Regions from separate parts of the Homo sapiens genome. Here regions 1 and 2 are each linked to region 3. The links come from fine-mapping of genetic effects on gene expression. A gene starts in region 3. Each other region holds a variant in brackets. All regions are shown on one strand. Distances are between the middles of the regions.

Evidence for each region. PIP is the estimated chance that this variant, and not a neighbour inherited with it, causes the effect. A credible set is the group of variants that fine-mapping cannot tell apart.
Region 1: its variant is the best candidate, but not a certain one, in a credible set for the expression of TNFAIP8 in whole blood (TOPMed, PIP 0.81).
Region 2: its variant is the best candidate, but not a certain one, in a credible set for the expression of TNFAIP8 in monocytes (TOPMed, PIP 0.56).

The regions. Positions count from the first base shown.
Region 1 is chr5:119,565,122-119,569,362 of GRCh38, forward strand. No RefSeq gene overlaps it. Among named protein-coding and RNA genes, the nearest start is that of FAM170A, 62 kb to the right of the region's middle. The variant G/C (reference allele first, on the strand shown) is at 1,854.
Region 2 is chr5:119,385,762-119,390,002 of GRCh38, forward strand. The region is part of intron 1 of TNFAIP8 (TNF alpha induced protein 8); the gene reads left to right. Among named protein-coding and RNA genes, the nearest start is that of TNFAIP8, 32 kb to the left of the region's middle. The variant A/G (reference allele first, on the strand shown) is at 2,153.
Region 3 is chr5:119,354,165-119,358,405 of GRCh38, forward strand. It overlaps TNFAIP8 (TNF alpha induced protein 8), which reads left to right and starts at 1,855. Exons shown (of 2, transcript NM_014350.4): 1 at 1,855-1,957. The coding sequence starts at 1,927. LOC102723444 (a long non-coding RNA gene) reads right to left here and starts at 1,609. Exons shown (of 5, transcript XR_007058912.1): 1 at 1,534-1,609; 2 at 91-202. RefSeq lists an enhancer at 812-951 and silencers at 1,602-1,761, 2,390-2,684, 2,482-2,541.

The DNA.
Region 1 (4,241 bases), 210 kb after region 3:
GGAATTATAGAACATTATCTAACTGAAGGGCTGGGGATTGTATTTCTTGGTATTTGTGGTATTCTTGGACCAAAGAAGTCCCTTTATCTTTGACATTTTAAACTTCTGACTTTCCTTACAGAGTTGAAAATGTGCCCCTAGCTTATACCTTGTTAGTGCCTTTCTTTATGTATTAAGGTTTCATTCCTTAAGTGTCTTTTTACAACACCTCAGGGACTCATCTCTTCTAGACCTCCACCCCCCTCTTTTACACTCCATATGCAAACAAATATATTTTGTATTTTTACTGATAAAATCTTATAGTTGGTATTTGTCAGGGTTCTCTAGAGGGACAGAACAGGAGAGATGTATATATAAAGAGGAGTTTATTAAGGAGAGTTGACTCACACGATCACGAGGTGAAGTCCCACAATAGGCTGTCTCCAAGCTGAGGAGCAAGGAAGCCAGTCTGAGTCCTGAAACCTCTTAAGTAGGGAAGCCCACAGTGCAGCCTTCAGTCTGTGGCCAAAGGCCTGAGAACCCCTGGAAATCTTTGGTGTAAGTCCAAGAGTCCAAAAGTTGAAGAACTTGGACTCTGATGTTCAAGGGCAGGAAGCATCCAGCATGGCAGAAAGATGAAGTCCGGAAGACTCAGGAAGTCAAGTCCTTCCACATTCTTCTGTCTGCTTTTATCCTAGCAGAGCTGGCAGCTGATTAGATAAGATGGTGCCCACCCAGACTGAGGGTGGGTCTGCCTCTCCCAGTCCACTGACTCGAATGTTAATCTCCTTTGGCAATATCCTCACAGACACACCCAGGAACAATACTTTGCATCCTTCAATCCAATCAAGTTGACACTCAATATTAACCATCACAGTTGGCAAAGATAAATTGTCTCTTGAATTAAATTCAGTTTATAACTATTTTAAAGAATAACAGCTACAAGTCTGAGACATGGGCTATTTACTCCGATTTCTATACAATAGCTTATCTATATTTTCTTTGTGGATCTTAAAAGTAAAATAATTACCATTATAAACACACTGAATTGCTGTAGAATTATGATTTTATCATTCAGCCATTTAAAAAAATCAGTTTTCAAATCTCCTAATTAAATTAATTAAAATGTTTAGTTGCTTTTTATAAATTCAATGATAATTAGTCTAATCATTTATTCAACAATTAAACTACAACAGAAATGAATTATTCAGAGCTTCATATTCTTTGTAAAGGCATTGAATTTTCTAAGTTCACTTCAACTCAACTCCACTGAAAATCAGCTCAAAACACAGGAAAGCAAATGAATATATTAGAAGTTCTGATGATCAATGGGACCTGTTTTCATGCTTAATTTCACTTTTATATGTCAAAGAATGGGTTTCATCATGATATTTCACTCCAAGGAGAGCATTAATTTATCATTATAAAGGTATCTGATATAATAATGTATTGACATAATTAATTGGTAGAATTAATATAAAGAGATTGTCCATTGCTAAAATGGATTAATGAATGTCTCAACTCAAGAAAATATGCAGACAGCTAGGAATAGCTCCCTAGTTTTGTGAGCTACCTTACCTGCTCAGGCTTATATATATTCCCTTTCTCACTTAAAGAAGGGAATGGTCTCCCTTGGCTGAAAGCTCAAGTCCATTTGCTGCTGGCAACTTGCCATGAGAACTGGGAAAGTCACTCTCCAGGCTTGCTTCCTAGCTGTTAATTTAAGAGCTTGCACTAAGTCATGGCTAGAACGTCTTCTGGTTTCAAGATTTTAGGAGTCCATAAGCATTAGAGTTTCAGCCTTGCTTTGAAATCAAGTATTTTACTTTATCAAGTAAGAGTTACACTGTATATGTATACATAACGAAAAGCAA[G/C]TGATGAAAAGGAGAAAATGGTATGATTAACATGTTAACAGTACTGGTGGGGCGAAGGTGGTGGAAACCCAAGTTTTTTAGCCCTCCTGGTCACCTCTCATTTAATATTTAAATCAAAAGAGCTTGCTTGAGTCCTTATTCTGCTTACATGAGAAATTAAAACCCCGACTTCTGATTTCATGAAGTTATTAGTCTCTCATCTCACCTCATTCAGCTATTCCCTTCTTTCATCATTGCATTGAATCCAAATGTGGAATAGCATTCTTTTTCATTGATATTTTCCACCAAACCACACCATATGTACTAGACTTACTGAAGTGTTAGGCTCAACATACAGCTAAGCTTAGCAGGCTGTTTGCACTCTAATTCTTTGAAGTGCTTGGCCAATCCCACTGCTGAAAAGTCACAAACCAGAGACCCCTCTCACATCTGCCCTCCTCATATCCCATACCTCCAGAAGCTCCCAACTTCTCCCACTTTATTATGCATAAGTGTTTAGCTCTGTTTCTCAACCAGGCCATGAGAGTGTTTCTTTTCACAGCTGATGATGGTGTTAACACGTAGATAACTAAACAAAGACGTTTCTCTCCATATGAGGAATTCTGCCTCTAGGTTACAAGTTTTTTTCCTTCTAGGCAAAGTGGGATGGCAAGGTAGGAAAGAGTGAGCAGGAAACATGGAGGTGGCTTGGAAAGAAGGAGGCCAAGAAAGGGAAATACTATCCCTGAGTTGCCCACCACTGGCAGCATGCTGTGTTGAGGGTCTTACAAATATTATCCCAGTCAATCATCTCAACAATATAATCTACCTATGAGGTAGATTATGTAATTGCCCCCCATTATAAAGATGAGTACACAGGTTTGGGGAGGTTAAGTTGCTCAACATCATATTGCTATTAAGTGGCAGACTTGAGATCTGAATATAGGCAGTCTTTTTGCTTAATCACTGTAAAATGCTGCTTTGTCTATTATGCTGGTCTGGCACGTACATTATTGCATTTTATTCCCATGAGCTACGTGCAATTTTCATCATTATTTTCTGAAAAGTAAACTTTTCCAAAGTCACAAAGTTAGGATGTAATGGCACCAGGAATCAAACCCAGCTCACTCAGCTCCAAAGTCTATGTGGCATGATAGGCTTTCCACTGAAAATATTAATGTACCTATACTTTTACTTGAGTTTAACAAGCAGAATTTATAATAATTTTATTAAAAATTTTGCAAGGTTTTGTAATAAACATCACAGATTTGCTCCTTAAGAACATTAAGTTGCCAGGCACGGTGGCTCACGCCTGTAATCCCAGCACCTTGGGAGGCCGAGGCGAGCACATCACGAGGTCAGGAAATCGAGGCCATCCTGGCTAACACGGTGAAACCCCGTCTCTACTAAAAATACAAAAAAAAAAAAAAAAAAAATTTAGCCGGGCGTGGTGGCGGGCGCCTGTGGTCCCAGCTACTTGGGAGGCTGAGGCAGGAGAATGGCGTGAACCCAGGAGGCGGAGCTTGCAGTGAGCCGAGATCGCGTCACTGCACTCCAGCCTGGGTGACAGAGCAAGACTCCGTCTCAAAAAAAAAGAACATTACGTTTACAGTGTAAACAATAGAAAGAAAAGGAGAAGGAATGCTTCAAAGAAGATGAAAGAAAACACCTTTAGATAGTAAAGATACAATTGGGCAAGAAATGCACACAGTTGGGATTGTGAGGTACTAGTATGCTAATTTCAGGATTTTAAACCCATGGATTCTAGTAGGAAACATCTTACTGTGTGCTTTAACTTGATGAAAATTAACTGGCAAGTATGAAAACATACATTGTTGTTATTTTAAATGTTGCAACTAAAATACGGAGTTTTTGCTGTCTTTTGAAATTAGAATGCCCACAGAAATATTTTACCTGTAAAAATTACAGAAAAGGCTGACAGGCAATTTGAGTCTGTTCTTAATGAGTAGCCCACCAGAGAAATGAAAAGAATTTAGAACCAATTGACTCTAATGCATCGGGGCCATCCCAATGAATGCTTCAGTCCCTTTTTTTGAAGTACCTGACATGTGTTTGTGCAGCCTCTGCTTGGTCCCCTCTGTGGATGGAGAACTCTGTTTTGTCTTAGGCAAGTAGGCTGTCGTGAGTATTAGAAAATTCAGTGCAGTGATAAAATGTGTTTCCTGATATATTCTGTTCATTTTGGATTTTGCTTAATGAAATGGGAGAATAAATTTATCCTGCTCTGTAGTGTTGGTTTAAATCCTTCGTTTTTTGAAATGTGGTCTTGCTCTGTTGTCCAGGCTGGAGTGCAGGGACACAATCATAGCTCACTGCAGTCTTGAACTCCTGGTCCCAAGTGATCCTTCTGCCTCAGCCTCCTGAGTTGCTGGGATTACAGGCTGAGAC
Region 2 (4,241 bases), 32 kb after region 3:
CAGAAGGAATTAATTTTGGCCAAATGTGATTCTGTACTAAAGAGCATCAGAATGTATTTGAAGTTTAATTTGTTGTGTTCTTTAACCTATGAAGAAGGCTGTTCTGTGATAGGGATTGTGTGAAACACATCTATGTGGTCCATGTCCATTTATCTCTGGAACAACTCCAAAAAGTGGGGATCATTGTACTTATCTTACAGATGAGGAAGCCGAGTACCAGTAATATCCCTGAGCAGTGTGGCAGTTCATGGAACCATTAGCTACAGAGTATTTGGACTTTTATAAGTATACTATAGTTTTCCAGGACCCTGGGGAAATAAGTTGCCACAGAAAAAGAACACTAGTGCATTAAAGGTTCATACTGCAGTCTTTTTAAAAAAAATGTTTTCGGTGGAAAACATTCTAATATGTGTTACAAGGTATGTTTTTTAAGAGGATAAATTCATGACTCTCATATAAATACAAATTGCACATATTGAAGATTTTACTTAACTCATTTATTAATGAGGGAACCAGTAAGCTCTTATATTTGGTTCAAGGAGGATCTTAAGAGCAGTCAAACAAGAAAATCAGGAATCAATTGCATGCAGCTCCACTGAACACATTTTATTTGTGTCTGTATGTAGAAGAGCCATTTGCAATATTATCAGTTTTCTACAATTTACAGAGTATAAAATAGCTAAGCGAAGGACAATAAAGGGAATCTGGAAGAGTGCCTTAGACAATTCCTAATACTCCCGTCAAAAGAACCCAGTGTTTTGTTTTGTTTTGTTTTGTTTTGCGGGGGAGGAGTATTTCAAAGTCACCATTTTCTCTGACATGTCTTCTTTACTATGTTGCCTTTTAAGGTTAGCATGTATTTTTCTGGAGTATAAGAAACAGAGTGAATGACTTAGCTTGCCACTGTAATGGTGCCTGTCACTGGTTCTTAACCACTTGGGGGGATGTGCATATACCCCAAAATGTGCATTCCGTATCAGGTTAAGGACTTCAGATGTATTGATTCTCCCAAGACTATGTTCTGTGTGACAGCCTCCATCTGTGTGGCATAAGGCCAATTTTGGGATTAAGGTGCCTGGCACTTGTCTTCTCTCTCTAGTTGATAAGATTGCCTCCAGCTTGCTGCCATGGTCGTTGCTTCTGACCCTTCCAGGGCAGCCCCCTTTAGAGTTCATATCTGTGCTGCTTCTACTGGGTCTCCCTCCCTCCCTCCCTCCCTCTCTTTCCTTCCTTCCTTCCTTCTCCCTCTCTCTTTCCCTCTGTTGTTTCTTCTCTATGCTGTTGAATTTCTGACTTTGGGATTTTGAGTATGAAAGCTGGTGACACTGACACATCACTAGCTACTCCGAGCGTTCATTGCTTTTCTCTGGAGCACTGCCAAATCTCCATGTAGGGAGGTCAACTCTTCGCCTGCTGACTTCTTATGACAGGGTTCGTTGTTTGTTCTGGCCACTTTCTTATCACCAAAGCTGACTTTTTACTAAGTCCCATTAGATTTAGAATTATTTAGATACAAGAGAGCTAAGGTTTTATATATTTATTTAAAGAACTTTTATTAACAGACAACAGCCAGACATGCTTTCCAAATTATTATCTTTTCTATCCTTCCTAATATTGGAAACCTGGATCGAGTTTTAACTAGGCAAGAATTTGCAATGTATGTACATCTGTTGTCATCACTGTTAAAGAGTCCCAAGTATAATAGATTTGAGGGGAAAAAATTATGTATTTACTGGTAAGACTGTAAAGAAAATGATTTGAGTACTTTATTAGAAAATTCTCAGTGGGAGTAGTTATGTTATGGGGCATTTTTGTTAATTTTCATAAAACTAAGTATTAATAACAAAGGACTTTTTTTTCCTTCTGAGCATATTTTTTCTTGAATATTTGGGTCAGTATATTTTAACCATATTTATCTCTAACTTTATAATTTTGATGCTAAAGCCAGAATTCCCTAAATATCACTTTGCCTTACAGCAAATGTTGCTGAAATGGCCAAGGGAGGAGATACAGAGACAGAGAGGGAGGGAGGTAAGATAAGTAATGTAAAATAACATTTACACCCTATTTCTAGAAAATAATCTTAAACAGTTTTAATGTGGTGGTAATGCTTTGTATTTTTTTTTAAATACAGCATTATTCTTCATTAATG[A/G]ACAATTTACATGTCTGTTTCCAAACACAAGTGAATTGATCTTAAGAGGCAAAAAACTGAATGAATATTTTCAGCACTTTCTCCTTGGGGAACATCTCCTGTTTACATCTTAGTTGCTTCCCAGGACATGCCTTAGGTATCCCTCTGGCACATGTCTAAACATAGATCCAGCCAGAAGTAGAGGTGGGCCTGTGTTTAATCTCCTGCTACAGTTCAAGTCAGAACTACACCTTGCTTTTACTCTAAATATTTGCATTATTGTCCTTGGATGTTTTCCCATTATGCACAACAAATCTCTCCTCTTTAAAAGAACTGGTTGATGACAGTAAGAGAAATCATACTCTGGAGCGCACTTAGAGGGAAGAAAAACCACATGTTTAGTGAGGTAAAACAAATACCTGTTTTTCTACCTTTTAATACAACAAACAAAAACACCCACTAATGTATTTACAACTCTCGTTTTACAGGCCAACATGTTTTCATAGAAAAGTATTTGAGTATATTGTGGATGAGATAGGGGAAATTGATTGCTGCTTCTGGACCAGCCACTCTCTAGGCCTGCAAGTTGACACAGTGAACATGATACACAGAATCTTTGCTCTCAGAGTTTAAATCCTAGTAGGGAGAGGCAGACAATAAAAATGTAGGCAAATGAAGAGGATTTAAGGAACAAGGAGGTGTGATAGTTAGCAAAGAACTTACATGAAGCATCTTTTTTTTTCTTTTCTTTTCTTTTCTTTTCTGAGACAGGGCCTTGCTGTGTCGCCCAGGCTGGAGTACAGTGGCATGATTATAGCTCACTGCAGCTCTGTAGCCTTGAACTCCTGGGCTCGGGCAGTCCTCCCACCTCAGCCCCCTGAGCAAATAGGACTACATGCCCAGCTATTTTTTTTTTTTTTTGAGTTTTTTTTGTAGAGACAGGGTCTTGCTATGTTGCCCAGGCTGGTCTCAAAGTCCTGGGCTCAAGTGATCCTCCCACCTTATCCTCCTAAAGTGCTGGGATTACAGGTGTGAGCCACTGCGCCCGGCCCCATTTGCAAATTTCATTTCTTGAAACTCTGGCTGATATGTGAAAAGAGATAGAAAGGGGTTTGGACTAGGCTGCTGTCCGTGGAGATGGAGGGAAATGGATAGAATTCAGAGAAATGCAGGAGGAAGGTGGAATGGAAAGAACTTAATAATGGACTGGGTGAGGGAGAGAATGGTATGGTGGATGATCCCCAGGTCTCTGATTTGATTGAGCAAAAGGTTGGAAGGGATGCTATTAATTGAGATCATAAAGAGTGAAAGAGGAGCACTTAGTAGGGAGGCAGGAGAGAATCAAAGATCAGTTTTGCATATGGTAAATTTGAGATGCCTGCAAAATAGTCAAGGAAAGAAAAATCTTGAATGCACTTACAAAATGAGTCCAGAAAAGAGGTCAGGGCTGAGTTATGGCTATGGGAGTCATTGGCACATGGGTGGTATCTGAAGCTGTGGCAGTGGATGAGATCACACAGGGGTGAGGATAGACTGAAGGAGAAAAACTTGATCCAGGACTAGCTCTGAGATACACCAGACTTTTAAGGGATCTGGTAGAGCATGTGGAACTGACAAATGAGCCTGCACAGGAATGGCTAACAGCAGTTAATTTGCAAGAAAAAGAAACAAACTTCATGAGCACAGACCACACATCCCTGGCCAGCGACTCTCAGCCACAAGCCCCAGTTGGCTTCAAAAAAACTTTCTCTAATGCTGGAAAATAAATCTACTCATGCATGTCTTCTTGGTGGAGGGGGAGAAAGAGCTTCAGATGGTGGAGGGGAACAAGGAGCTTCAACCTCATTTAAAAAGACGACTTCACTGGAATAACCCAAAGAATAAAAGGAAAGTGTGACACAGCTGCTGTGTTTCTGGAGCGGGGTTTGAAGTTCCTCTAGGATAAATATGAAAGCCTCAGAGATCAACTTCTCTATCTTGATTCATACTTGATTACCAGTAAATGGGGAATGATCTTGCTTAGTTGGCAGTAGATTTGCCTGTTACACACTCTCTTGCAGGAAGTTGAAGTGCTGTATCATAGAGTTTTTGTTTTCCATGTTTGAAGTTA
Region 3 (4,241 bases):
GGTATACATATCAGCAGCTCCTGACTCAGGATGTGTGGCAGAGGGGACCATGAAGTTAACTGTGACTTTCGGAAGGGTGCAGTCTGTTACCCTTTCGGTGGCGAGGTCAGTTTCCGGGAGGCTCTGCAACACTGATATTTTCCAGATGTTTCTCCTCTTCTCCCTTCTCTGGCTGGCTATATCTTCCTCCCTTCATCCTGCTCTTTCAGTGAAATTGAGATAACATGTTAGAATCTTAGGCAGGTTAGAATCTCTCAGCAGTAGGATGTGATTTAATATCTAGACCTCTTACATTAATATTTATAATAGCCTTCACTGCTTGTGAATAGCATAAGCACTCTTTTCTGTTCAAAGTCAATACTGAAATAAAACCCAAGAGTATGTTTTATAAAAATTTACTTTTAATGGTGCAATGGTAATAATCTATGTAGTCCTTATGGTTTTCAAATCCCTTTGTGCTTATATTACCTTATTTAATACAGACATAAATCTGTGAAGTAAATAATACTATTTTTATCTTCATTTTACAAATGAGGAACTGGAGGCTCAGAGAGGTTAATTTGCATAAGGTCATACAAATGATAGATGGCAGAACTGGATTTAAGTTCAGACTCCTTAAATCCATGTCTTTTGTACGTTCTTTTCACTAAATTTGCCATAGTGTTTCTATTGGTTTTTGCCTATATAAAATCGGAAACGAAGAAAAAGAAACGAACTGGAAAATAAATTTGTCAAAAGAGTATATTTTTTTCTCATAATTTCCAAGCGGATCTTTCAGATATGTTATTTGAGGACTTTTTGCCTCAGACTGGCGATAAAACAAGTGTTCTACAAAATACCTCCGTAAGACAGGCCTATCAGTGGCAGCTCTTGTCCCCGCTTTGCAGAAGGGAAAACCAAGGCTCCACAGAGCTAAGGGGACTTCCTCTCAGCCAATTTGTAGGGGCCTGTGGGCCAGACCCGGGGGCAGAATTGAGATCTGTTGTGAAGGCTGTCCGGCTTCTTTATTCTATCAGCATTTCAAATCCTGAAAACCTCCCCTTTGGCATTTTGAAGGAATTCATCCCCAGTTTTTGCTGGTAGCCGGGAGGGAACCGTGCTCTCCCCCTGAGGAAGGCCCTTTGGAGTAACTGCAGCAATGAGTGCCCGGGCTGTGCTTGGAGTACCAGTGCTCGCCCGGGGCTATACTGAATGAGTAAGCAGCCCCGTCTGCTTTTGCTGTGCAAAGGTAAGGGTGGAGGCCGCTCCACTTTCTTCAAAAGGCCCCGCTCTGGGACTTGTGAAATTGTGCTCTCTTAAGCTGGTCCTTGCAACCCCATGGACGATATCCATGCGACTTTCCTACAAAAATAACATACCAAAGCCGCTTTAAAATCCGTAATTTTTGGGTTGCAAGACTCCAAGACAAAGTCAAATGGGCATCAAAAAATGTAATCCAAAAATACAGAGGCATTGGTTCTACCCTATATGCATTTGCTATTTATGTAAAACTACAGTGTGCTCTGAGATGAGACTTTTTTTTTCTTTTTATACCTTTTTTTCCGCCCGTCTGGTGCGTTTGCCGACGGTTCTTCTCGGCCCTGTGTCTCGGGAGAGTCGGCTGCCGTCTGGGCCTGTGCCCCACCTGCGTGCGCCCGGGCCGAGCCAGCCCCGCCAGGTCGCCTCCGCCCGGCTGCCGGCCCGAGCGCGCGGCTCCGGGGGCGGACTCCCGCCGCCCAGCTGACACGCGATTCGTCACTCTTGCAGAACTTTCCCCCTGAAAATCCCTGCACCAGAACCCGCTCTCCCGCCCCGGGGAGGTTTTGATTTTAGTGGCTTTCTTCCTTTTATTTTCCGTCGTGTGCGGATTTCGCTGCAGAGCGAACTTGCGGCTCGTCCGAGTACATGTGAGCGGTAATCGCCCCTGCAGCTGGTTATCCTGACATTATGCACTCCGAAGCAGAAGAATCCAAGGAAGGTAGGATTCTGGTTTCTCCTGGGGGCCGGCCAAGTTCTGCGGAGGAATTTGGAGGAAGGCAGTGGTAGAAGAGGATGGGAGTTTTAAAGTGAGCGGTGGGCACTTTGTCCGCTTGCCCTGCGCCTTCGAAGCCAAGTCGGAGCTGGATAAGCGGAGCCCGGGTCTCATCTTGGGCTCCCTTCTCCCCCCGCAGCCGTTCAGAGGGGAGGGGAGGAAAAGTCGGACCTAGTTCAGCCAGCCCACTAAGTCTGCTTTTTAGCTTTCTCTGGAAACGAAAGAGCCCCACTTGGACTCCAAGAATGCAAAATGTGCTTGGAAAAGGGCTGCCTGCCTGCATCAGAAAGACTGAAAGCGGGATCCCTGGAAGAGCCCTGAGTGGAGGGTCCCTTGAAAAGGGGTTTGAGAAATTAGAAACGCTATATGTTTCCGGCTAAAAGGGGAAGCTGAGTGAGGGGAAGCGAAAATCTGTATTTGAGAAATAGATTAATTTTTTTTCATTGCTGGGTTTTCAGCAGTGAGTTCATTTCGTTGGGGGTTTGAGGGGGCTGAAAGATATGAGGGGGTCCTTGTGCAGCTTGAAACTGAGAAGAGTTTGTCTGTTTCTAACTTCGCAAAAGCAAAGGGTTTCATTTACTCCTAACAGAGAACAGGTGACAGGGCTGGAAAAGCTCCAACCAAAACACAATTATACGCTGGTGTTAGTTTGGGGAGTTTATTTGTGTGTGAGTGTTTGTATGCTTTGTTCCTTGAAACTTTATGTATACAAAAGTTCTCTTGTAAGTGGGGGGTGGGAGTAAGGGTGGTTGGGGAAAATTAGAGAGTAAGAGAGGAGACTATTCAAGATTGTGAAATACTCTTTCTTTTCATGTAGTCTCTTGGAAAGCTGGTTAATTTCAAGTCAATCACAGCAGTTCTGGCAGAGGAGCAGCCCCATCATTTCTCCATTTGGTAGACACCAGTTAGGAAGAGCCCTTGAAACTTGTCCTCTTCTGCCTTTTACTGATTCCCCTCCCAGAGGAAAGCTTTGTGTTTCACCATGTAGTCTTTGTGGGCTCACGTTTACCTTATTATGCTGTGTGAGGGAAATAGTCAATAAAAAGGAGGTTTGTTTAATAGAAATACGGGGCTGGCATGAATGAAAAATGACAGCCAGGAGCATTGTTTTTGAGTTTGATGTGGAGTATGGGGGGAGTAATGCTTTCTTGCCGTGTCCTGTGTTCTGATGGAGCTGTGTGCTGATAGATGCTTTTCTTTTCTATGTCTTTATACCAGCAGTTTATTCAAAGTCAAAGGTAGTTGAAGGCAAATAGGAACCAGGCTGAGAGAACTCAAGGGTGAACTTCTGTGTGAATTACAAGTAGCACTTAAGCTGGCGTTTTCTCTCAGGTGTGTTTTCCCTGTCTTTTGAGAAAGAGAGAGTGGGAGAGAAAGTGGAAAAACAGTATCCCAAAGTGTGTATTATACATTCCCATAGCAACATCCACAGTCTTCCCTCCTCGAGGGCCCAGCTCTCTGGTTTTAAGTTTGGAAGCAGCCTGCAAACTGGCCTATGAAGAGGTTAATGGGGCCCCTTCTGCTTGTTCCTCACCTTCCCTCCACTTGTCATCATTTACATTCTGCAGATCGGCCACAAATGATATGGCGCTCTGCTTTTTAAAGAAAGCCCAGAATGTTTCTTTTAAAATAATCTGAGGTAGTAGAATTTTAAATTGATAGCAATTAGGGTGGGATACTGAATAACTCTTGAGGGAGATTGAACACTTTATTAATCAGATAGAATCATATAGCTTCTGCCAGGAAATGAAGGATAGGTGTCTGTGTGTTTTGGGTGTGTTTTCTCCAAGGCTGGTTCATTGGCTGTAATCTAGAACCTTCTGGTTAGCTACCACCACTCAGATGTCGATGAAGCGAGCTATGTTGTGTAAATAACTCAGTTATCTTCTCTATCGTTACTAGTCCTTTTCCTCTTATACGTAGCTTTTTTTTTTTTTTTCATCCTGGTGAACTTATGTATCCCATTTAGTGTGAGATCACCATGAGTTCTTAAGAATGTCTGTATTGCAAGAAAACTGCCTTTGGATGCTTCATGCCTGATACGCTGTAAGAGGAGATACTTTTAAGTCATTTTTCTCAACTGTAGTGAGAGACTAGTATACTTTGGGGTTGAATCTAAGTCCTTGGAGGCCAGCATATTTTTGCATATGCGTGAATGTAGAAGCAAATGACTGGGGATATTGTTAAGCCATCAGAGCTTAAAACATACTTGACTCTGTGCCAGGGGTGC